Linked DNA regions of Homo sapiens. The protein of the gene in region 5 purifies or fractionates together with the protein of the main gene of each other region. This does not show direct contact. Each region holds a gene or a part of one and is shown on either strand. Other genes may lie near its edges. The genes, in order: ZMPSTE24, ARCN1, RDH13, COPB1, COPZ2 and COPB2.

Region 1 (3,500 bases), on a different chromosome or scaffold from region 5:
GTTGGCCAGGCTTGTCTCGAATTTCTGACCTCAAGTGATCCGCCCACCTCGGCCTCCCCAAGTGCTGAGATTACAAGCATAAGCCACTGCGCCTGGTCCAAATAGTGCTTCAATAAGCAGTTTTTCTGCTTAAATCAGCCACAGTTGGTTTCTATTGCTTGCAGAATTCTAATACAATGTTTAGTAGGTTCCTCAATATGTAATATAGCCATTAGAAGTCTTAATTCCCCACAAACCTACTCTTCTCCTATTTTTTTCCATCTCAGGAAACTACCATATATCTAACTGCTCAGGTCAAAAGTCTAGGCCATTATCTTTGATGTCACTCTTTCCCTTATTCTCCCAATGCAATCAATTAGAAAATTCAATCAACTCTACCCTAAAACTTGTCCCAAATGTATCCACTTCTCTCCATTAATTACTATTATCCTAGTCTAAGCTACCATTATGTCCTACCTAGACTTTTGCCTGTCTCTACAACATATTCTCCATACAGTAGCCCAGGATATTTTAAAAACACAAAGCAGATCATGTCACTTTCCTGTCTAAGCCTTCAATGGCTCTTCCCACTGAACTCAAAATCCAAACTCCTTACCCTGACTTACAAAGGCCTATGTGGACTGATTCTTGCCTATGTCTCAGATTTCATCTCCTAACACTCTCCTGCTATGGTGCAGCCACACTGGACTTCTTCATGGTCCTTGAACATCTTCCCATTGACGTCAAATGGGCGGCTCCTCCCTTTAGGTCTCAGCTCAATCTGATGACCAATCTACAGTATCAACTTATCAGACCAAACTAGTTTAATTTGCTGCATAGCACTTGCTATCTGATAATATTTTGAGAGCAAGATTCTTGGCTTTTCACTACAATCTCCCTACCAATTTACAAATATGTAATGTGTGTTGTTATTGTCAGCAACAACATTCATTCATTCAAAATATTTTTGAGAATTGTTACTGTTGTTAACAACAATTAAAACATACATTATAGGTGAGTAAACTGCTGTTTGGCAAAGCTAAGTTGCGCAAAGTCACACAAGTAGTTTGTCTCGAACTCCTGACCTTCCACCTCAGCCTCCCCAGTAGATGGGATTACAGGCTGGAGCCACCAAGCCCAGCACTGGTAATCTGTGGTAGAGCTATGATTCAAACCCAAGCCTTTTGACCCTGAAGCCTGACGTCTGAAATGCTGCCCCCAACCTACTCAAATCTTGACTTCCCATTAACACCCAGCTCAGGTCATAACCTTCCATAAAGCCTTCCCTGACTATTTTATCTAAAATGAAAATAGCTCTCATACTCTGGATGTTGTAGGGGGAAAAAAAAAGATAAAAAGAAAATAGCACCGATATATTTCACATATTCTATTGACTACCTCCACTGTCATAGCATTAACTATTATTTCACGTTATCTGATTGTAACTTAAGGGATCAGCAACTTAGGTTGCTCCTTCAGTAAAAGCAGCTTAGAGACTATTCTGTTGTACTGATTAATGATTAAATTTCTAGTTTAATATTACCTAAAAAAAAAAGAGTAGTTATTTCAGAGGCTAAAGAAGTAAGTATGAACTGGCTTATTCTACCATTTCTCCACAGACTTTTAAGCTACTCCAATCGTGCCTTTAGTTGGGCTGTATATCCTCAGGAGCCACTAAATGTCTGACATATATATATATATATATATATATATATATATTTTTTTTTTTTTTTTTTTTTTAGACAGAATTTGGCTCTTGTTGCCCAGGCTAGAGTGCAATGGCTTGATCTTGGCTCACCACAACCTCCACCTCCAGGTTCAAGCGATTCTCCTGCCTCAGCCTCCCAAGTAGCTGGGATTACAGGCACGCACCACCACGCCCAGCTAATTTTTTGTATTTTAGTAAAGACAGGGTTTCACCATGTTGGCCAGGCTGGTCTCGAACGCCTGACCTCAGGTGATCCGCCTGCCTTGGCCTCCCAAAGTGCTGGGATTACAGGCGTGAGCCACAGCGCCCAGCCAGATGTCTGAAATTTCTATGTTCTTCCAGTTGCTGTTGATTCATTCTTTTCAGTTGTGACCATCTCTGTTCTCCTCTAACCCTGTGATTGTTTCTGCTTCTATTCCTTCATCTAACACTGCTGCTTCTCACTGGTAATATTTTATTTTAGAGCAGGGATCAGCAAACTGTAGCTCACAGGCCAAATCCAATCTGCCATTTATTTTCATAAAGTTTTATTGGAACACAGCCACACTCATTTGTTTAGTATTGTCTATGGCTGCTTTTGCGCTATAATAGTAGCACTGAATAGTTGCAACAGAGAACAAGTGGCCCGCAAAGCTAAAATATTTACTATCTAGCCCTTTACAAAAAACATTTGTGAAACCATAGCTTAGAGGAAATACAACTGAAACCCAGAAGGGTGAAGTCACTTGTCCAAGATCCTATAACTGGTAAGTGGCAGGAACAGAACTATTACATTCATTTATATGGACTTTATAAATTCTGAAAGTCATAGAACCTTACAACAGTTTCTCTCTACATCTCCGTAGTCTTCTTTGAGACTTTAATAGTCAACTACCAAAGTCTCAAAGAAAGTAATAGACTGGGTGTTAATGGGAAGTCAAGATTTGAGTAACGGTCAAGAGACCACTTAAATCTCAAAAGTAATCATCAAAAAAGCAGAGTATAACAAATCTGCAGTACTCAGTGGTACTGCAGTCTTTGGTAATCAATCTTCAGGTGAGTCCTCCAGAACACTGGATATTTTCTTGGAGGAGACAAGGCCAATAACACTGGCTTTGTTTAAGAGCCTCCAAACTAATACTAAACAGAATTTGACTATTCAAGAGTCCAACTTAACTACCTAAAAGAACTAGGCAGATAACAGAAGTGAATAAATCAGTCTAATATATAAGATAACATAACAGAGAGTGAAAAAGCCTTGGCCAAAAATTTAAAACAATACTGTAAAACCAAACAAACATAGCTGCAGACAAGAGCAGGATTTGGTATCAAGCCACCAGTTTCTATCCCTGGCCTATGTTATCAATTTCTGTAAATCTTAAAAAGCCAAAAGGTAAACTCCTAGCCTTTAAATAACAAATTTTAAAAAGAAAAAAACAAAAACTGATTAATTCTTTTATTAAAATTTTAAGAATAAAGTATCAAATAAAACAAACCACTTGGATAAAACTTTCTTATCCCCAGGTAGCCTTACCTTCCACAACATACACCTTCGTCAAAGGAAAGTCAATACTCTTTGCCATTACTTCAATTTCTTCTTTAAGCTTTCCCTCAGGCAGAGGTGTGAATTTGTCAAATAAAGGGGCAATATAATCAGCATAGATTGTGACAAGAACCTGAAAAGTAAATGTCAGAATAACATATGAACATGTTCTTAAAGAAAAAACATTCTTTATTATACAGATTAAATTATATTAAAACAACTATGTTGACCTCAAACTTGAGAACAAGGAACTTACTTGCTCTGGTATTCCCAGGCCCAAATAGTACCAGA
Region 2 (3,500 bases), on a different chromosome or scaffold from region 5:
TTTCTAGTTCTCAATGCAAACTAGCTTAGTGGGACTGGCCAGAGGCACTTACTTGTCAGTGGAATAAAAGATTCCTCTGTGGTTTGTAGTCTCCACTTTAGCACCCCTACGTCACTGTTGACTGGAAATGACTTCTCTGGATTCTTCAGGCCAATTAGAGACTCTGCAGTGAAAAGTTTTTTATCCACATTTGGATGGGTCTAGAATGAGAGGGAAAGGAAAACTCCTGAGGTTCAGATAGACGAGAAACAACCCCTCACTAGGCTTATATGGCCCACAATCTAAACATCCAAAATAGAGTACCTAACAAATTCCAATTCTTTTTCATTTTGAAGAAAGATTTCCCTTCTTCAAAGACTTATTTTAAAATGATTTAAGATACTTAAAAACTAGTAATTTTTTAAAAAAAAAGCTAATTTCAACTCTAAAAGCCATTACAGAACAAGTTTGCACCTGAAAAAGTTAAAAGACTATTAACCAAGTTCTTTCCAAAAATACTTCACAGGGAGCAGGTTCATGGTGGGGCCAGGTTTGCCAAGCAGAAGGCTCCAGTAAGACCCTGATCAGCTGCCTGGGTCAGACAGCAGTTCTGGCCTTATATAAAGTAGCAGAAAAGGGCAAGCTCTGTGTAAAGTCTAGTTGCAATTTTGCCTAGAGACTTAAAGTTGTTAAAATCCAAGCCAATTAAGATAGTCTTATCTTTTTAAAAGAAATTGCTTTTGGGGAGGCTGAGGTGAGAGGGGCATTGAAGGTCAGGAGTTTGACATCAGCCTGGCCAACATGGCAAAACCCTATCTCTATTAAAAATACAAAAGTTAGCTGGGGCTGGACATGGTGGCGCACGCCTGTAATCCCACCTACTCGAGAGGCTGAGGCAGGAGAATGGCTTGAACCCGGGAGGCAGAGGTTGCGGTGAGCCGAGATCACACCATTGCACTCCAACCTGGGCAGGAAGAGTGAAACTCCGTCTCAAAAAATAAAAAATAAATAAATAAATAAATAAATAAATAGCTGGGTGTGGTGGTGCACACCTATAGTTCCAGCTACTATGGAGGCTGAAGAGGAAGCATTGCTTGAGCCTAGGAGGTTAAGGCTGCAGCGAGCCAAGGTTGTGCTGCTGCACTCCAGCCCGCATGACAGAGAGAGACTGTGCAAAAACAAAAAAAAAAACAAAAAAAAGAACAAAAAAACAAGACAAAAACAAAAAAAACCCAGAAGGGCTGGGCATGGTGGCTCATGACTACAATCCCAACACTTTGGGATGATGAGGTGGGCGAATCATGAGGTCAAGAGTTCGAGACCAGCTTGGCCAACATGGTGAAACCCCATCTTTACTAAAAATAAAAAAAATTAGCTGGGCATGGTGGCAGGTGCCTGTAATCCCAGCTACTCAGCAGGCTGAGGCAGGAGAACTGCTTCAACTGGGGAGGCAGAAGTTGCAGTGAACCAAGATCGTACCACAGAACTCCAGCTTGGGCAACAGAGAGAGACTCCATCTCAGGAAAACAAAACAAAACAAAACAAAACAGAAATCACTTTTGGATAGCACTTTACAAGCCAGCAAAAATGTCAAATAATATAAGCACTGCTTCCAAAAGACAATTCTGTGCTGACTACGGTGGGGAAAGTAGACAAAAACACTCTTCCGTAAAAAGGCTTTGTTCTTGTGACGAGATGTCGGCTAAATGAAATGAAATTACAAGAACACCTGTAACATAAAGCAGGGCTTATATATATCTATCCAATAGTTGGAACACACACACTTATATTGAAAGGATTTTATGTACTTTTCAAATACACCATTAGATACTGCCCTTCAGTTAACAAAACAAGCACTGGCAGTTTATTTAATAGCAGAATGAGTAAATTTCGCATTGTGCCACCACGCCTGGCTAATTTTTTAAGTTTTTGTAGAGATAGGGTCTTGTTGCTCAGCCCTCATTGCTCAGGCTGTTCTTGAACTCCTGGGCTCAAGCGATCCTTCAGCCTCAGCCTCTCAGAGTGCTGGTATTATAGGCATGAGCCACCACACTTGGCCTAAAGCCTTGTTTTTTTAAAACTGTATTTCAAGCAAGATCCTAAGTGATTAATTTACTGTTTTCATAACAGCAAAAGACAAACACCTCCTTGTACCTTTTATTGGTGAGTATGAAGTCATTTATTAGATTTCGAAATGACCTTTTATTCAATTCCAATATTTAAAAGCCATCCTTACACAGCTGCTTTACTCACTCTCAGGTAGCTACTGTATGCAATATATTAACTTCTTTCCTAAGCGTTTAGAGTGATGCTAGTTATATAACTTAAGTAATTTTCTGTGGTTCATATTGGGAACTCTAGTTGAGAAAGACTATAATAGGTAGACAAAGTGTTAATACTCCCTATCAAAAGCTTCTACACACCTGTAGCTGCACCCCTTTCTTATCTTCATTTTCCACATGAAGACGAATTCGGCCATACTTGTCATCTGAGATCCTAAGCATGATCATGCCATGCAACTCCATATTCTGTAATCCTCCGTCTCGTCCACAGGTTAATGTTATCTTTTCTTCAATCTTCATATGTACACTATAAAGAGAAAGTAATACATTTGTTCAGAAAGGTAGAAACCAATGGCCGGGCGTGGTGGCTCATGCCTATAACCCCAGCACTTTGGGAGGCCAAGGCGGGCAGATCACCTGAGGTGGGGAGTTCGAGACCAGCCTGACCAACATGGAGAAACCCCGTCTCTACTAAAAATACAAAATTAGCCAGGCGTGGTGGTGCATGCCTGTAGTCCCAGCTACTTGGGAGGCTAAGGCAGGAGAATCGCTTGAACCACGAGGCAGAGGCTGTGGTGAGCCGAGATTGTCCCACTGCACTCCAGCCTGGGCAACAAGAGTGAAACTCTGTCTCAAAAAATAAAAAAGAAAAGAAAAGAAAAAAGAAAGGTAGAAATCAGAACTCCCTTTCTCCAAGGTCTAATGATTAGCCATCAACAACGTTTTTTTAAAGGTGCTACTGCTATAGCTATCAACATTTAAAAGGCGATACCCTTTGATACAGCAATTCTTCAACAGACTCTATCCTACAGATAAATTCTCACCTGTGCAAAACAATCTGCTAAGTTATTCACTGAAGAATTGTTTGTAATGGCAAAAGTTTAGAAACATGTCTGCCAATAGGGGGCTGCTCAAATAAAGGCATATTCACGGGCGTGGTGGCTCACGCCTGTAATCCCAGCACTTTGGGAGGCCAAGGCGGGTAGATCACGAGGTCAGAAGATCGAGACCATCCTGGCTAACATGGTGAAACCCCACCTCTACTAAAAATACAAAAACAAAATTAGCCGGGTGTGGTGACGGGCGCCTACTCAGGAGGCTGAGGTGGGAGAATGACGTGAACTCAGGAGGCGGAGCTTGCAGTGAGCCGAGATGGTGCCACTGCACTCCAGCCTGGGCAACAGAGTGAGACTCTGTCTCAAAAAAATAAAAAATAAAAAATAAAGGCATATCCACCCG
Region 3 (3,500 bases), on a different chromosome or scaffold from region 5:
AGACAGGAGAATCACTTGAACCGAGGAGGCAGAGGTTGGAGTGAGCCAAGATTGTGCCACTGCACTCCAGCCTGGGTGACGAGCAAAACTCCGTCTCAAAAAAAAAAAGACATTTATTTATTTATTTATTGAGACCTGGTGTCTTGCTCTGTCACCCAGGCTGGAGTGCAGTGGTGTGATCTCAGCTCACTGCAACCTCTGCCTCCCGGGTTCAAGCGATTCTCCTGCCTCAGCCTCCTGAGTAGCTGGGACTACAGGTGCACACCACCACACCTGGCTAATTTTTGTATTTTTAGTAGAGACGGGGTTTCACCATGGTGGCCAGGCTGGTCTCGAACTCCTGACCTGAGGTAATCCGCCCACCACAGCCTCCCAAAGTGCTGGGATTACAGGCGTGGCTATTAGCCTCGCCAAGTTAAGATTCTTGATGCCAACCAATCACCCACTCCATGTTTTTCAGGATTATAAACACTAGTCATAAAGCATGAACTGCCTGGGGGTGGTGGCTCACACCTGTAATCCCAGCACTTTGGGAGGCAGTTGGATCACCTGAGGTCAGGAGTTTGAGACTAGCCTGACCAATATGGTGAAACCCCACCTCTAGCTGGGTGTGGTGGTGTGCACCTGTAATCCCAGCTACTTGGAGACAGGAGAATCGCTTGAACCTGGGAGGTGGAAGTTGCAGTGAGTGGAGATCATGCCATTGTACTCCAGCCTGGGCGACAGAGCAAGACTTCATCTCAAAAATAAGTAAGTAAAGCTCCAACTGTTTGTTCCACCTATTCTCTGGGCGGGGTCCTGTGCTGGCCCTTTCAAGGAAGGTCTCGTATAACCCCCCCAGTGACTGTGAGGTGAGTCCTATTAAGGCCTGCACTCTGCAGATGAAGAAACAGGCTCAGAGGGGTAACAGCTCTTCCCCAGGAGGTGCAGCTGGTTTGGGGTGAAGCTGGAGTTACCCTGAGTACAGCCTGACTCCAGGCGTCAGCTCCACGGCCTCTTCCTCTGAGACACGGTTTTCTCATCCGCCAGCAGGGCTCTGCCTGCTTCCCGGGGCTGTTAGAGGCTGGCAGGCCAGGTCAACGGAGGAAAGGGACCTGTGCTCTGTGCCTCAGAAGACGTAGGCGAGGAGCAGGCATGAGGCCTCAGGGACGGTCTCTGAGGGAGGGTCCTGGGCCCTGGGCTGAGAAAGCAGGGGTGGAGGGCTCCACGTGGAGACCCCAGGCTGGGAGGGGACTCACCGAGTGTGGTGCTGGAGAAGGTGGAGCCATGGATGCCCGTGTGTCTGCCCAGCTCTGTCCTGGCCACGCCGGGGTGCAGGGCGTTGACAGTCACACCAGAGCCTGGGGAAGAAAGAAAGAGAAGACTGAGGGAGGGGTCCAGCCTCACCTGGGAGGCTGTGGCAGCCCACACCCAGCTGTGGGGCTTCCGGGCACCAGGCTGCTTCCTGCACTCAAACCCCATCGTCCCTCTTGCTCTGGAATCTTAGTGAAGTGGTCTTATCTTGCGGAGCGGCTCTGCCACATGGCTGCTGGGAGCCGAGCTTTCCTGGAGGGCTTCATAAACCCAGAACGCTGAGCTTACCCCGGGAGCCTGCATCGGTGCGTGGCGGTGGGACCTAAGATACTGTAACTCTGACCAGCTCCCAGTGGGGCTGGCACCGCTGGTCCACAGACCGTCTTTCAGAAGCAAAGGCCTAGCACAGATTTCTCAATCTCAGCACTGTGGATGCTGTGGGTTGGGAGGAGTGAGGGGCCATCCCGTGCGCTGTAGGACATTGAGAGCATCTGGGCCTTTACCCTCCAGATGCCCAGAGCAATCTCTCCCCAAGCCAGCTGTGATCACTGTGTTTCCAGGCATTGACAACTGCGGGTCAAAACTGCCCCTGGTTGAGACTCACTGGCTGGAGCCAAAAGGCTGAGCTGCCTGCCCAACAGCAGCAGGGAAGGACATCTGATCCAGGCAGACTAGACCACCTGGGATGAACAGACAATCCTCAGAAGAACGATCGATTAGTGATGTCTGCTTCAGGCACCAGAAGCGGGCAGCGTGGTCCACATGCTCTACTTTTGCTGACTCTGTTCTGGATCCACCGTTTGGCCTCCCATCAGCCTAGGATCATGGAAAGGCCGCTCTAGGCTCAGAGTAAAGCAAGAGGGAGGCCGAGCCTAGCGCCCCCGTACCTTGCAGCCGCCGGCTCAGCTCCTTGGTGAAGAGGACGATGGCGAGCTTGCTCTGGCAGTAGGCGGCTTTGGTGTTATACTTCCTCGTCTGCCAGTTCAAGTCGTCAAAGTCTATGTGCCCAGCAACATGGGCCAGGGACGAGAGGTTGATGATCCGCGAAGGGGCTGAGGCTTTCAGCTTGTCCAGCAGCAAGTTTGTCAAGAGAAAGTGACCTGGATTAAGGATGATGAAAAGGTCACTTTTGACTCACACCTAAAATCCCAGCACTTTGGGAGGACGACGGGGGAGGATCGCTTGAACCCATGGTGCAGCCCCTGCCCAGGCCTCACCCAGGTGGTTAACGCCAAACTGCATCTCGAAGCCGTCCTCGGTGGTCCAGTGGGGGCACCGCATCACACCCGCGTTGTTGATTAGAATGTCCACTCGCTCCTCCTCTGGAAGAGAGGGGTGGAGGAGGAGACATCCCGGTGAGGACAGACCCCAGCCTGATGCACCAGCAGAAACACTCCTGTGCTCCCACAACCTGTGAATGTGGCCTGTGCCGGAAACAGGGTCTGTGCCGAAGTGGCCATGTCAGGATGCGGTCATTAGGGTGAGCCCTAATCCAATGACTGGTGTCCTTATAGGAAGGGAAAACAGAGACAGAGACACATGGGGAGAAGGCCATGTGTGGACAGAGGCAAAGACCGGAGAGGCACAGCTCCAAGGTGAGGGTGGGCCGCCCCCGCTGGAAGTGGAAGAGGCTGGGAGGATTATGGCCCGTCTCACAGGTCACAGCCACAGGGACACCGCGATTCAGACTGCCGGCTTCCGGAACCGTGAGGGAATGCACGTCTGAGGGTGTAAGCCACTGGGTTTGCAGTACATTGTTACAGCAGCTCCAGGACACTCACACGCCCTCCGCACCTCCATCTAAGCCTTGGGACTCCTTCCTGCCGGAGCCCCGAGGCCAAAAACGGGAGGTTACCGGTGGGAGCCCCGGCACCGCAGGCGTGGTTTCATTCCCAAACCTGCCACCTCACTCATACAAGCAACCAAAGGACACACAGATGGAGACTGCAGCCTCAGTTTCCTCAGCTGTAAAATGCGCTGAACCACAGGGCCTTCCTCCCTGTACCACTCAGCTCGGGTTCCGTAACAAAGTGCCACAGACAGGTGGTTTAAAACCTCACAGACCTGGCCGGGCACAGTGGCTCACGCCTGTAATCCCAGCACTTTGGGAGGCCGAGGTGGGCAGATCACCTGAGGTCAGGAGTTTGAGACCAGCCTGGCCAACATGGAGAAACCGCGTCTTTACTAAAAATACAAAATTAGCCAGG
Region 4 (3,500 bases), on a different chromosome or scaffold from region 5:
AAAGCCTATAGAGGCTAAGCAAGTGAACATATAAAGTGGCTTGGAGTAATACGGTTGAGAATGACAAGCACTGTCATAAACTGTAAAGTATATAACTTATTTAAAGGGGGTTACTGTTATACAAGTTCAGCAGAATGTTGTCTTGTGGAAGCTAGGAACAGCGCTGCCAGATCTTTTGACTTTTCAATGTTCATAATAAAAAATACAGTGCTGGCCATACAAAATATATCTTCAAGCTATATTCAGTCTGCAAGCAACCACTTTGGAACCACTAGTCTAAAAGACTAAACAGTACTCACAGAATGAAGCCAAAGCAGTATCTTTATTTACCTATAGATGGTATAGATGGCCAAAACAGCATTTCTTCTAACATAGCTGTGTCGATGCTCCAAACATGCACGAATAGCTGGCATTAAAGGTTCTAGCAATTCTGCTTCTTTCAATTTGCAAAGAAAACGAAGAGTAGATCCTCGAATAAATTCATTAGGATGTTGAAGATCCTGATATAAAAATTAAAATATGAAATGCTGAGTTTCAGCTTTTTACAAAAAGAAAATTTTAATGCAAAACTTTCCAATGGAAAAAAAATACGTTTGAGAAAAAACCTAGATTACCGACAATTTCCATCATATTCTTGTTGACTGAAGCAATTTTTACCTATCTCATCAATGTCTTATATGTGTGTCACTGTTTTTTAATTAATATATACACATAAAATGCATAGAAAATGTCTGAAAAGTGACAATAAAACTTTTAAAAATAACTCTTTTACAATTCCAAATCTCTACAACTTACATCTTATCAAAGACTCAATTTTAACAATTAAAACACAGCCCATTCTACCAATTTTACATTTAAATTCAAAGCAATATTCAGAAATAATTATGATTTGGTTTACCTTTCTGTATGCATCACATACAAGGATCATCTCATGTAAAAGTCTCCCATCTGGAGTTGTTTTAGGAACAATTTCCCAAAATACCAGAAGTAATTTCTTGATAGTGTGATCCTGAAGAGGTAGCACAAAACGAATGATGGTCATCAGAAGTCCAGGAAGTTTTTCACCATTCAGAATCATAATGATTACTTTCTTCAAAGCTTCAGTCTTTGACTTTACATCTCCTTTTTCTGAATCAAAAATTTTTTTAAAAAAAAGCACAATTATTTCAAAAGAAAATTCATCACATAAATTTAAAAGCAATTAACAAAATAAAATGTACCTTCTTACTTCAGTATCAGCAATGGTAATAAAAGTACAAACCCAAGTGACAAGGTTCTCCACCTGGTTCTCCACCAAATAATCTGTCTTTGCTCAAGTCATTTATCTCTGGAAATCAGACTCTTTATATATAATATGAAGGCGCTGGATTAGATTTCTGGTTCCTAACCAATTGAGTTAATGCAGGCTCCATGAATCTACAGTCATACCAAGTAAACGTGTTTCAAAACACATATAGCTATTTTTCAAAATGTAAATACATACTATTAATTGATTTTGAATTCAAAACAGCTTTTAGCTATTTGTGTGCATTTTAACAAAGTTAAAACTACTATTATGGGAGGATAAATATGTAACTTTTTTAACATTAGAAAGAGAAACGTCATACTCAAAAAGGCTGAAAACTAAAGTAGTGGATTATTTCTAAAATCTCATCATAGTTCTGCAGGCAGGCTGTAAAACTTTAGAATCTTTCTTAAGATATCATCTGGAAAACTGGGAGGTAATTCAAATGTTCTAGATTAGTAGTCATTATTTAGAATTAAGGATGACACATTAAAGATAAAATGCTAGTTTACTGTTATTTAGCCTAAAAACTCTGCAACATAAAGTATTTTACGCAAAACTATCTAAAATTTCACACCATTATCATTGCATACTGAAGAATTTATAGTACTAAAAATCTTCTGGATCCAAAACTCAAAGGCAGAGAAGTATGTAGTAGCACACTGTACTACAACTGTTTAGATCATCAAAATAAATGAATTATCTTGGGAAGGGGAGAACAAAGAATGATTACAAGTCTTCAATAACCTTAGGGCCATTATGAGGAAAAGAACTACAACTAATGGGTAGTAGTTACCGGGAACCAGATTTGGGCCTAAATATGAGAAATACATTTCTAATGATTAGAGCTAAGCGGCTATGAAACAGAGTTCTGAGCGTCAGATGCGGTGGTTCATCTGGCCCACAGAACTCTTCATTTAATAGCCACTTAAAATTTTTGTATTTTTACTAGAGATGGGGTTTCGCCATGTTGGCCACGCTGGTCTCGAACTCCTGAAGTCAAGTGATCCACCTGCCTCAGCTTCCCAAAGTGCTGGGATTACAGGCATGAGCCACCATGCCCAGTCTCAACTCTTCTTAATGGCAAAAATATACATTAAACTGGAGAGTATGTATTTATTTATTGGTTGGAGGAAGGTAGCTAAGGCAGCTTCAATTAAGACTAGGGCATTGTTCCAACTAAGGGCAGATTTTATTCTTTACCTTCCTAGCTATAACCTTAGGTATCCTGAGGATCTAACAATGAAAATTTTTAAATTATGAGGAAAAACACTAATGAATGTATTCACTATTTTGCATTCAACTATCCTACATGAACATGAAAAAAGGGAAATATATGTGGCTTATGTATATAATGGTATCATTTTAAATATCATAAAACTGGGTTTCTTTTCCCTTCTCTAAAAATAGACCTCAATAGAAACCTAGTATTAAGTAACCTAGAATCAGGAGGTATTCCATTACTGCTGATTAAGAAGTGGGAATAGGCAAGTAAAATATTAAGTTTCTTTTCAAACTGCAAACTATCTTCTAAAAGATCCTTTCTATATTTGAAGCATAATTTTCACTCTGCTCTGTTTAAACAATATTTATCAGTTTAAGTTGTATTTATTTTTAGCAGTTCAATTAAACAAGAATCATTACTTTGGAAAGCATATTAATTATAAATTTTTTTTTTCTTGACAGAATCACTCACAAAAAGGAGACACGGTATACATTTTTAAAATTCAGAAATATGATAAATTTAGTAAAGTTCCAGGACACAAAATCAACATACAAAAATCAGTAGCATTTCTATATGACAACAGTGAACAATCTGAAAAAGAAATTGAAGAAGTAATCTAATCCCATTTACAATACCCACAGATAAAATTAGATACCTAGGAATTAATTTAACCAAATAAATGAAAGATTTCTACAATGAAAACTATAAATACTGATGAAAGAAATTGAAGAGAACATCAACAAATGGAAAGATATTCCATGATCATGGATTAGAAGAATCAGTATTGTTAAAATGTCCATACCACCCAAAGCAATCTAGAGTCAATGCAATTCCCATCAAAATACCAATGACATTCTTCACAGAAAAAAAAAAAAAATCCTAAAATTTATATGGAACCACAAAAGACCCAGAATAGCCAAAGCTATCCTAAGCAAAAAGAACAAAACTGAAGGAATCACATTACTTGACATCAAATTATCCTACATAGCT
Region 5 (3,500 bases):
GGACAGAAGAGAGGTCAAGACAGTCGTCCTGAACTAGCAGGAAGTTTGTGCAGCTGGGGAACTGATCAGGCTTCAGAGCCAGGAACCTCCCCCTGGCCTTACGCTCTGCAAGCACCTCCAGATAAGACCATGCAGGGTTGTGGCAGGTTCTTCCATAGCCAGGTCACTCAGGGGTAAGGTGACAAGTGATGAGTGGGGAAAGTCAGATCCTATCATGGGTTTGAGAGTCCCTTAACAATCCCAGTGTGCACCCTAAGTGGCAAGGACAGGGGTTAAGAGCCAAACTCCTATTTGGTACCCTTTCCAGGTTTCGGTAGAGGGCGCATCAGAGGCCTGAGTTCCCAGATTTTTGGGGTGCACAAGTGACCCAGCCATCTCCAAGGTAGGCAGCTCATCCTAGTTTCAATCCAACTAAACCAAGCCAGGAGATGAGGTGGGCTGATGGTAACATGCCCATCCATCCATTAGTACCCAGCTCCCCTGAGTTGGAGAGCCCGGAGGCCTCCAGTGAGTCTTTCCAAGATATGACCTGTCACTGCCTCATCCCTTCCCTTCTCACCCCTGATTTTTCAGACTTGATAACTTCACTGGGTCCCCCTAGGATGCTCTAGGATGCTCTGCTCCCCGTATCTCTCTAGACCATTTCTAGCCAAGGCAGATGCAGGGGGGCCTACCTGGGCCACACTCTGTTCAGTCAAGCCGCCATCATCTGCCTGTAAGGAAGCAGAGTCAAGGGGTGGGGTAGGGCCAGCATGAGGGTCCTGGGTCAGGGAGGTGAAGGAAAGGGGCTTGGGGGTATGGGTGAGGTGGTGCAGTGGTTAGGGTGATTCAGAGCTGCACCTGTGTCACTGGTTAATAGAAGTCCTGCAGCCTGTCATTTGGAAGCCAGGACCTCTGGGATTGTGCTATGGTGCGTGGAGGGTGAGGGAAGATGGGAAGAAAGATGGGAAGAAAGGTTTCATCCAGACATGAGAAAGCCAAACAAGGCAGGGAGGTTCTATCCATACCCCTGACCCCCAACCTCAAGGCCAAGGCAGCCACCTAGTGCCTCTTTGAAGATGTATTTATTTCCCCAGTCTATACTTCCTACCAGGAAAGAGGTGAGGTACTTGTGCTCCTAGCCGGGGAGAGGACAGGAAGATTTCTTCCATTAACTGGCATCCCACCCAGAAACTGCTGCTCATCTCACCCCTAACAAGTGTGTCAGCCCAGTGGTTGGCTTCTGCTAGAGGAGCTTGGGCTTCTACCATCTAGGCCCTAGCAGCCCTATTCCCAGGGAGGACAGGAAGGGCAGCCTAAAAGAGGAGGTGTCCAGGAAGACTCTTACCCTAAAATTCACCTTCTGGATCACTTGCTGGGGGTCACTCTCCAGAATCACACTACAAGATGAGAGGAAAAACCAGGAGGCAAATCAGTGGCACAATCCTCCCCTCCGCCCCTTCTCCTTGCCAAGCCTCTTCCCTCTCCGAAGGCATCCTGCAACATCTCCACCTTCCAGGTCCCTTCCCACTGATAGCCCTCAAGTCAGAACTCTCCCTCAGCATGGAGAGCCCTCAGCTCTGATTCTTTGATGCTTCAACCCAGTGGTCCACATGCTTTGTCATCCCTGGGCAAAATCTTTGAAACTGGATAAGAACAGTCTGGTCTAGGATGATCAGGTTGTCAAAAGCAGGGACTCTCAAAACTCAGAGCTCTTGAAAGTTCACTTCACTTTCTGGGTATAGGATTGGATTCCCTGTGAAAAGAGTTAGGAAGAGAGGCCCTGGGGGTTCTTATCTTGTTGCACTGTTATTTTATGGCATGGGGTCATGCCCTGCATAAAAGAAATGAAACTCCAAAAATCAGCATCTACCTTCTCCCCTACTTCCTCCCTTTTTTTTTTTTTTTAAGGCTGGGCACGGTGGCTCATGCCTGTAATCCCAGCACTTTGGGAGGCCGAGGCGGGTGGATCACCTGAGGTCAGGAGTTCCAGACCAGCCTGGCCAACATGGCGAAACCCTGTCTCTAGTAAAAGTACAAAAATCAGCCAGGCATGGTGGCACACATTGTAATTCCAGCTAATTGGGAGGGTGAGGCAGGAGAATCGCTTCAACCCGGGAGGCAGAGGTTGCAGTGAGCCAAGATTGCGCCACTGCACTCCAGCCTGGGCATCACAGTGAGACTCTGTCTAAAAAAAAAAAATTTTTTTTTTAAATCTTCCCTTTTAGGCCAGGCACAGTGGCTCACGCCTGCAATCCTAGCACTTTGGGAGGCTAAGGTGGGAGGATCACAAGGTGAAGAGTTCGAGACCAGCCTGGCCAATATGGTGAAACCCCGTCTTTACTGAAAATACAAAAAAAATTAGCCGGTAATGGTGGCGCACGCCTATAATCCCAGCTACTCGGGAGGCTGAGGCAGGAGAATTGCTTGAACCCAGGAGGCAGAGGTTGCAGTGAGCCAAGATCACGCCACTGCACTCCAGCCTGGGCGACAGAGTGAGACTCCATCTCAAAACACACACACACACACACACACACACACACACACACACACAAAGAAACAAACAAAAAAATTCCCTTTTGATAGACCCAAATATTGTAGCTTTTCTCAGAGAGCAGGCGCTCCTTCGTGAGGCCTTGGGGTTATGTACAGGGTACATGGGCGTGAGGGCCTGTCACTGCGGCAGGACAAAGATGACAGGATCTGAGTGTACCTCCTTACCCACTGAGACTCCTCCAAGGCAGAAGCTTTGTTTCTCTTTGTTACTAAATCACTGGAAATGACAAACATTTCTTGGGAGCCTCTTCCAGTCCCCATCCTTGGGCTGAGCACCCCCTGTCCCAAGCTCCCTAACCAGGGGTCCTGTAATCCATAAAGAAAGAGCATCCCAGGCCAAGGCTCCAGTTTAGGCGTTGCCTCCCGACTGGCGCTTCCCCAGTTTTTCTTGGCAGGAAACTGAGTTCCTCAGAGGCAGAGACGGGAAGCTTGTGAAGCTTACACCTCAGGCATCCTCCTTTGCACAGCCATCCAGAGCCCTGCATCTTGTTTTGCATTTATAGTTTTGTGTGTGTTTGTGTAAAGTTTTCCTTCAAGAGGGTTCACCAAATTGTATATGCTTCTGGCTCCCCAAAACCTGGCGTTACCCCACTCCCTTTTGGGTCCCAGAAATCTGCAGGAGGCATTCCTTAGTGCCCCAGGCAGTCCAGTACAGTGCCATAGAAACAGCATGGCCTCTGGAACTATTCACATGGTTTTAGATCTTGGCCCTGCCACTCCCTAGCTGTGTGAGAGACCTCCGGCGTGTCACTTGAAACTTTGAGCCTGTTTCCTAATGTATAAAATGATGTAATGATAGAGGGATGTATGTTTTTAAGGAGCTCAAGAAATTTCTATTGGCCGGGGATGGTGGCTCACACCTGTAATCCCAGCACTTTGGGAGGCTGAGGTGGGCGGATCACGAGGTCAGGAGATCGAGACCATCCTGGCTAACATGGTGAAACCCCGTCTCTACTAAAAATACA
Region 6 (3,500 bases), on a different chromosome or scaffold from region 5:
TTTTGATAATCGAAGAGGGAGAGCAGGGTACAAAAGACACTTCTTGGCCTTAGGGACCCAGAACTCATCACAAAAATAAATATTCCAAAAACAACAATGGAGGGGAAACTCACATGTTTGGGCTGAATTTCAATTCTTCGTATGAGTTCTGTATTGTCCCAGTCATAGAAGGCTAAGCCATTTACAGATCTGACTCCCAATAAGAAGCCGCCGTAGATACCTAAAGGGAACATAAAAAGAGTTTTGCTTAGGCATTTTTGAGCCATTACAAAGAATTTAAAAATGTATCATATGTAGATCACACTCACTTTCTGCTCCAAAATCTGGTTTAAATGATTTTTTTTCCTTAAAGTTCTTAAATATCTTTACAATGCTGTTGCTCTCTCTTATTGCATACCTGGGAGAAAAAAGGGAAGGCAAACATAACATGTTATATACTAAATCATAGTTCTACCAAATGTTGGAAATATCTTCAAATATTTTTCAGTAATTATGCAAAAATATAAAATAAATATTTGAAGATTATCTGATGTACTGTTTTCCTAAGAGATCAGAGAACTCCTTACAGTTGGACAAATGATGAAAGGGTTTTATACTGTGTATGACATGAATTACTAGGGCTTACAAACCACTTTAGAAACTGAAAATGACCCAAATGTCCACAATAGGTGAATGATTAAACAAATTATCGTATATTCATATAATGGAATGCTACTCTGCAAATAAAGAAACCAATTACTGATCCAGGCAAGAATATGGATGAATCTCAAAAACATTATACTGAACAAAAGATGCTGGACTCAAGAGTACATACTGTATGATTCCATTTATATGAAACTCCAAAGACAACTCTAATCTATATAGTGACAAAAGGCACTCATCAGTGTTTGCCTGGGACTGGGGAATGGGTGGATGGGGGGTATGGACAGACTGTTAATGGAGACAAGGGGATTTTGCGGGGATGATAGAAATGTTCTATAATTTGATTGTGTTAGTAGTTACGGATTACATACATTTGCCCAAATCTACTGACATGAACAGTAGTCCTCCCTTATCCATGGGGGATACGTTCTAAGCCCCAATGGATGCCTGAAACCTCAGATAGTACTGAACCCTATATACACTATGTTTTTTCCTATAATGTAAGAGGTGGGCAGCATATACAATGTGGATATGCTAGACAAAGCGATGATTCACGTCCCAGGTAGGATGGCTCAAGATTTCACCATGCAACTCAGAACACTGGGCAATTTAAAACTTATGAGTTGTTTATTTCTGGACTTTTCCACTTAATATTTTTGGAACACAGTTGACTGTGGGTAACTAAAACTGCAGGAAGGGAAACCACAGATCGGGGGATCGCTGTACAATTAAGTGGTACATTCTGTCTTCTGTAAATTATACCTCAATAAGGGCGATTTAAATAATAAAAACTGTGACAAATGGTTCATTAATCAGCCATCATCAGCAACAACTGCTTATATTCAGGCCTCTGCCTTGAAAAAAGGAGCTGTGGCTATCACTGGATATTTAAGATTGTCTGAGGAAGTGATGTGATGAGGGCTTTGCTCAGGACAGGAAAGATGCTGAGCAAGGTCTTGGCTGGATAGAGCTGAAAAAAAGGACTATCAAAATAGAGGAAGAGGTGTGCTGAGAGAAGGCAATTCATCAACTATAATTTTGCTTAAGATAACACATTACCTTTGAATACATAGAACTGTATGTATATGTGTATTTAGGAAATTTATGAAAATATCAGAACAATTCCATACCTCTCAATAAATCTTACTGTTGTAACATTTTAAAAAATGTATCTTATTACACAACGCTGAGGCTTAAGTTACCCCACTGTTGGGGGCAAGATGCAACATAAAATGTGGGGCAAACAAAACTAAAAAAACTGTGAAAATGTAATTCAGTTGTGTGGTCTGAAAACACTAAACCCCTAATGTTTATTACGTGCATTAAACAGGAATCAAAAAGGAACCAGAGCCAATGACTAGTAAAAAAGTCAGAGTTAAATGATCTTTCCTGCTTTTAATGAGAACATTTTATGAACATTCTGAATTCAGACAGAAATTTGTTAAGAATGGGCAGTGGGTACTATCACAGAAAATAAGTTTTAAAAAAGATTTAATAAATTTCTCATCAAAATGATCAAACCACAACATCACTCCCAAGTAGCTCATAAAGGGGCAGTAGCACCTCAGGACACTACATCACAGGGAGGGCATGCCAAGGCCTGCCAAGGCAGACATGAGGGTCTACTGTGCCTTAAGCCCATAAAGCACCAGGTCCTGCCATGGGCTCCATCAAAGAAATGGGTGCTGGGTCCCCAGTTAAATGGAATTATTGTATCAGCTTGAGTGAGCCAGCCTAACGCAGAACAAAGAAAGCACTAAGACGGCTCATGCTATACACTCGCCTCTGACTCTCATCTTCCAATGGACAGCTCTGGTGAGAACTGTTTTTTAACACGGAGAATCACAGCCCACATCAAGCCTTGAGAGTCTTCAAGCAGCACACAACACATCTGCAATCAGGGCATGCTGGCTATCATACAATCAAAACTTACTCTGAAGAATCGTGGGCCCATGCAAACTCCTGAGCAGATCCAAAGCTCTTGTTTCTCAATGCCATTGCTGTGTAGATGATATACTCCCCATCACCACACACCACCACAAACCTAGAAATCACAGAAGCCAGGGAGGGAAGTACAGAGGACCAAAGACATGTAGAAGTTAAGGAACAATAATTCATGTTATGGTAAAAGAATTCTAATAACAAATGTTATTTAGTTCATTATTACAATTTAACATCTTTTAAAAGTTATACATTTCTTTGAATACAAAGTTACAAAAAAAATTCTAGCCAACAAATTGAAAAGGAAATTATGAATATGGCATTACTGCTGAAATGTTATTGGAATGGTCTTCTCATAAATAAAGGCAACTGGAGGCAGGAAGGTGAGAATGGCTGGAAATGCAAAGGAGGAGGATTCCAATTATTCAACCAGTATTTGTTGAGCACCAAGATGCCTAGAACTTTGCTCATGACATTTATACCACAGGAAGGCACTATATTATTACAAAGACTATCTTCATTTTAAAGCTGATCATTCAAATGAATAAAAATATCTCACTCCAGGTTTTAAAGACTTAAATTCAGCAAAATACAGAGGATATTTTAACATTTAAATAATGAGAAAACAGAATGCTGCAGAGTCAACGAAAATTTTCCCAATGGACATAAGACAACTATCTTTAAAGTTGTTTATAACACTGTAAAGGCTGGTATCAAAAGACTGCCAAAGGCAAAACTTACAGCCAAGAATGTTTTACGATATTAAGGGAAATATGCATAATGCATTCTTAACCTTTATAAGACAATTATATTACAAATAATTATGGATACCATTTACTGAACTAGGCGGCATACTTGGTTTATATCTTTTGTCTTTTTCAATACTCAGCACAGCATTATAAGATGCCCAGACCTGC

The links.
Region 1: the proteins of COPZ2 (region 5) and ZMPSTE24 purify together in Homo sapiens (affinity purification with mass spectrometry; one large-scale study listed by BioGRID and IntAct). This does not show direct contact.
Region 2: the proteins of COPZ2 (region 5) and ARCN1 purify together in Homo sapiens (affinity purification with mass spectrometry; one large-scale study listed by BioGRID and IntAct). This does not show direct contact.
Region 3: the proteins of COPZ2 (region 5) and RDH13 purify together in Homo sapiens (affinity purification with mass spectrometry; one large-scale study listed by BioGRID and IntAct). This does not show direct contact.
Region 4: the proteins of COPZ2 (region 5) and COPB1 purify together in Homo sapiens (affinity purification with mass spectrometry; one large-scale study listed by BioGRID and IntAct). This does not show direct contact.
Region 6: the proteins of COPZ2 (region 5) and COPB2 purify together in Homo sapiens (affinity purification with mass spectrometry; one large-scale study listed by BioGRID and IntAct). This does not show direct contact.

The regions. Positions count from the first base shown.
Region 1 is NC_000001.11:40,271,736-40,275,235, reverse strand, and holds part of ZMPSTE24 (CAAX prenyl protease 1 homolog), read right to left. Parts: intron 3,343-3,500; coding exon 3,201-3,342; intron 1-3,200. UniProt on the Homo sapiens protein: Transmembrane metalloprotease whose catalytic activity is critical for processing lamin A/LMNA on the inner nuclear membrane and clearing clogged translocons on the endoplasmic reticulum.
Region 2 is NC_000011.10:118,589,409-118,592,908, reverse strand, and holds part of ARCN1 (coatomer subunit delta), read right to left. Parts: intron 2,569-3,500; coding exon 2,403-2,568; intron 201-2,402; coding exon 53-200; intron 1-52. UniProt on the Homo sapiens protein: Component of the coatomer, a cytosolic protein complex that binds to dilysine motifs and reversibly associates with Golgi non-clathrin-coated vesicles, which further mediate biosynthetic protein transport from the ER, via the Golgi up to the trans Golgi network.
Region 3 is NC_000019.10:55,046,149-55,049,648, forward strand, and holds part of RDH13 (retinol dehydrogenase 13 isoform 1 precursor), read right to left. Parts: intron 2,616-3,500; coding exon 2,511-2,615; intron 2,394-2,510; coding exon 2,181-2,393; intron 2,110-2,180; exon of another isoform or gene 1,898-2,109; intron 1,341-1,897; coding exon 1,239-1,340; exon of another isoform or gene 957-1,238; intron 1-956. UniProt on the Homo sapiens protein: Retinol dehydrogenase with a clear preference for NADP. Oxidizes all-trans-retinol, but seems to reduce all-trans-retinal with much higher efficiency. Has no activity toward steroids.
Region 4 is NC_000011.10:14,493,312-14,496,811, forward strand, and holds part of COPB1 (coatomer subunit beta), read right to left. Parts: intron 1,129-3,500; coding exon 899-1,128; intron 501-898; coding exon 331-500; intron 1-330. UniProt on the Homo sapiens protein: The coatomer is a cytosolic protein complex that binds to dilysine motifs and reversibly associates with Golgi non-clathrin-coated vesicles, which further mediate biosynthetic protein transport from the ER, via the Golgi up to the trans Golgi network.
Region 5 is NC_000017.11:48,027,798-48,031,297, forward strand, and holds part of COPZ2 (coatomer subunit zeta-2), read right to left. Parts: intron 1,380-3,500; coding exon 1,328-1,379; intron 714-1,327; coding exon 675-713; intron 1-674. UniProt on the Homo sapiens protein: The coatomer is a cytosolic protein complex that binds to dilysine motifs and reversibly associates with Golgi non-clathrin-coated vesicles, which further mediate biosynthetic protein transport from the ER, via the Golgi up to the trans Golgi network.
Region 6 is NC_000003.12:139,369,148-139,372,647, forward strand, and holds part of COPB2 (coatomer subunit beta'), read right to left. Parts: intron 2,687-3,500; coding exon 2,576-2,686; intron 398-2,575; coding exon 309-397; intron 221-308; coding exon 114-220; intron 1-113. UniProt on the Homo sapiens protein: The coatomer is a cytosolic protein complex that binds to dilysine motifs and reversibly associates with Golgi non-clathrin-coated vesicles, which further mediate biosynthetic protein transport from the ER, via the Golgi up to the trans Golgi network.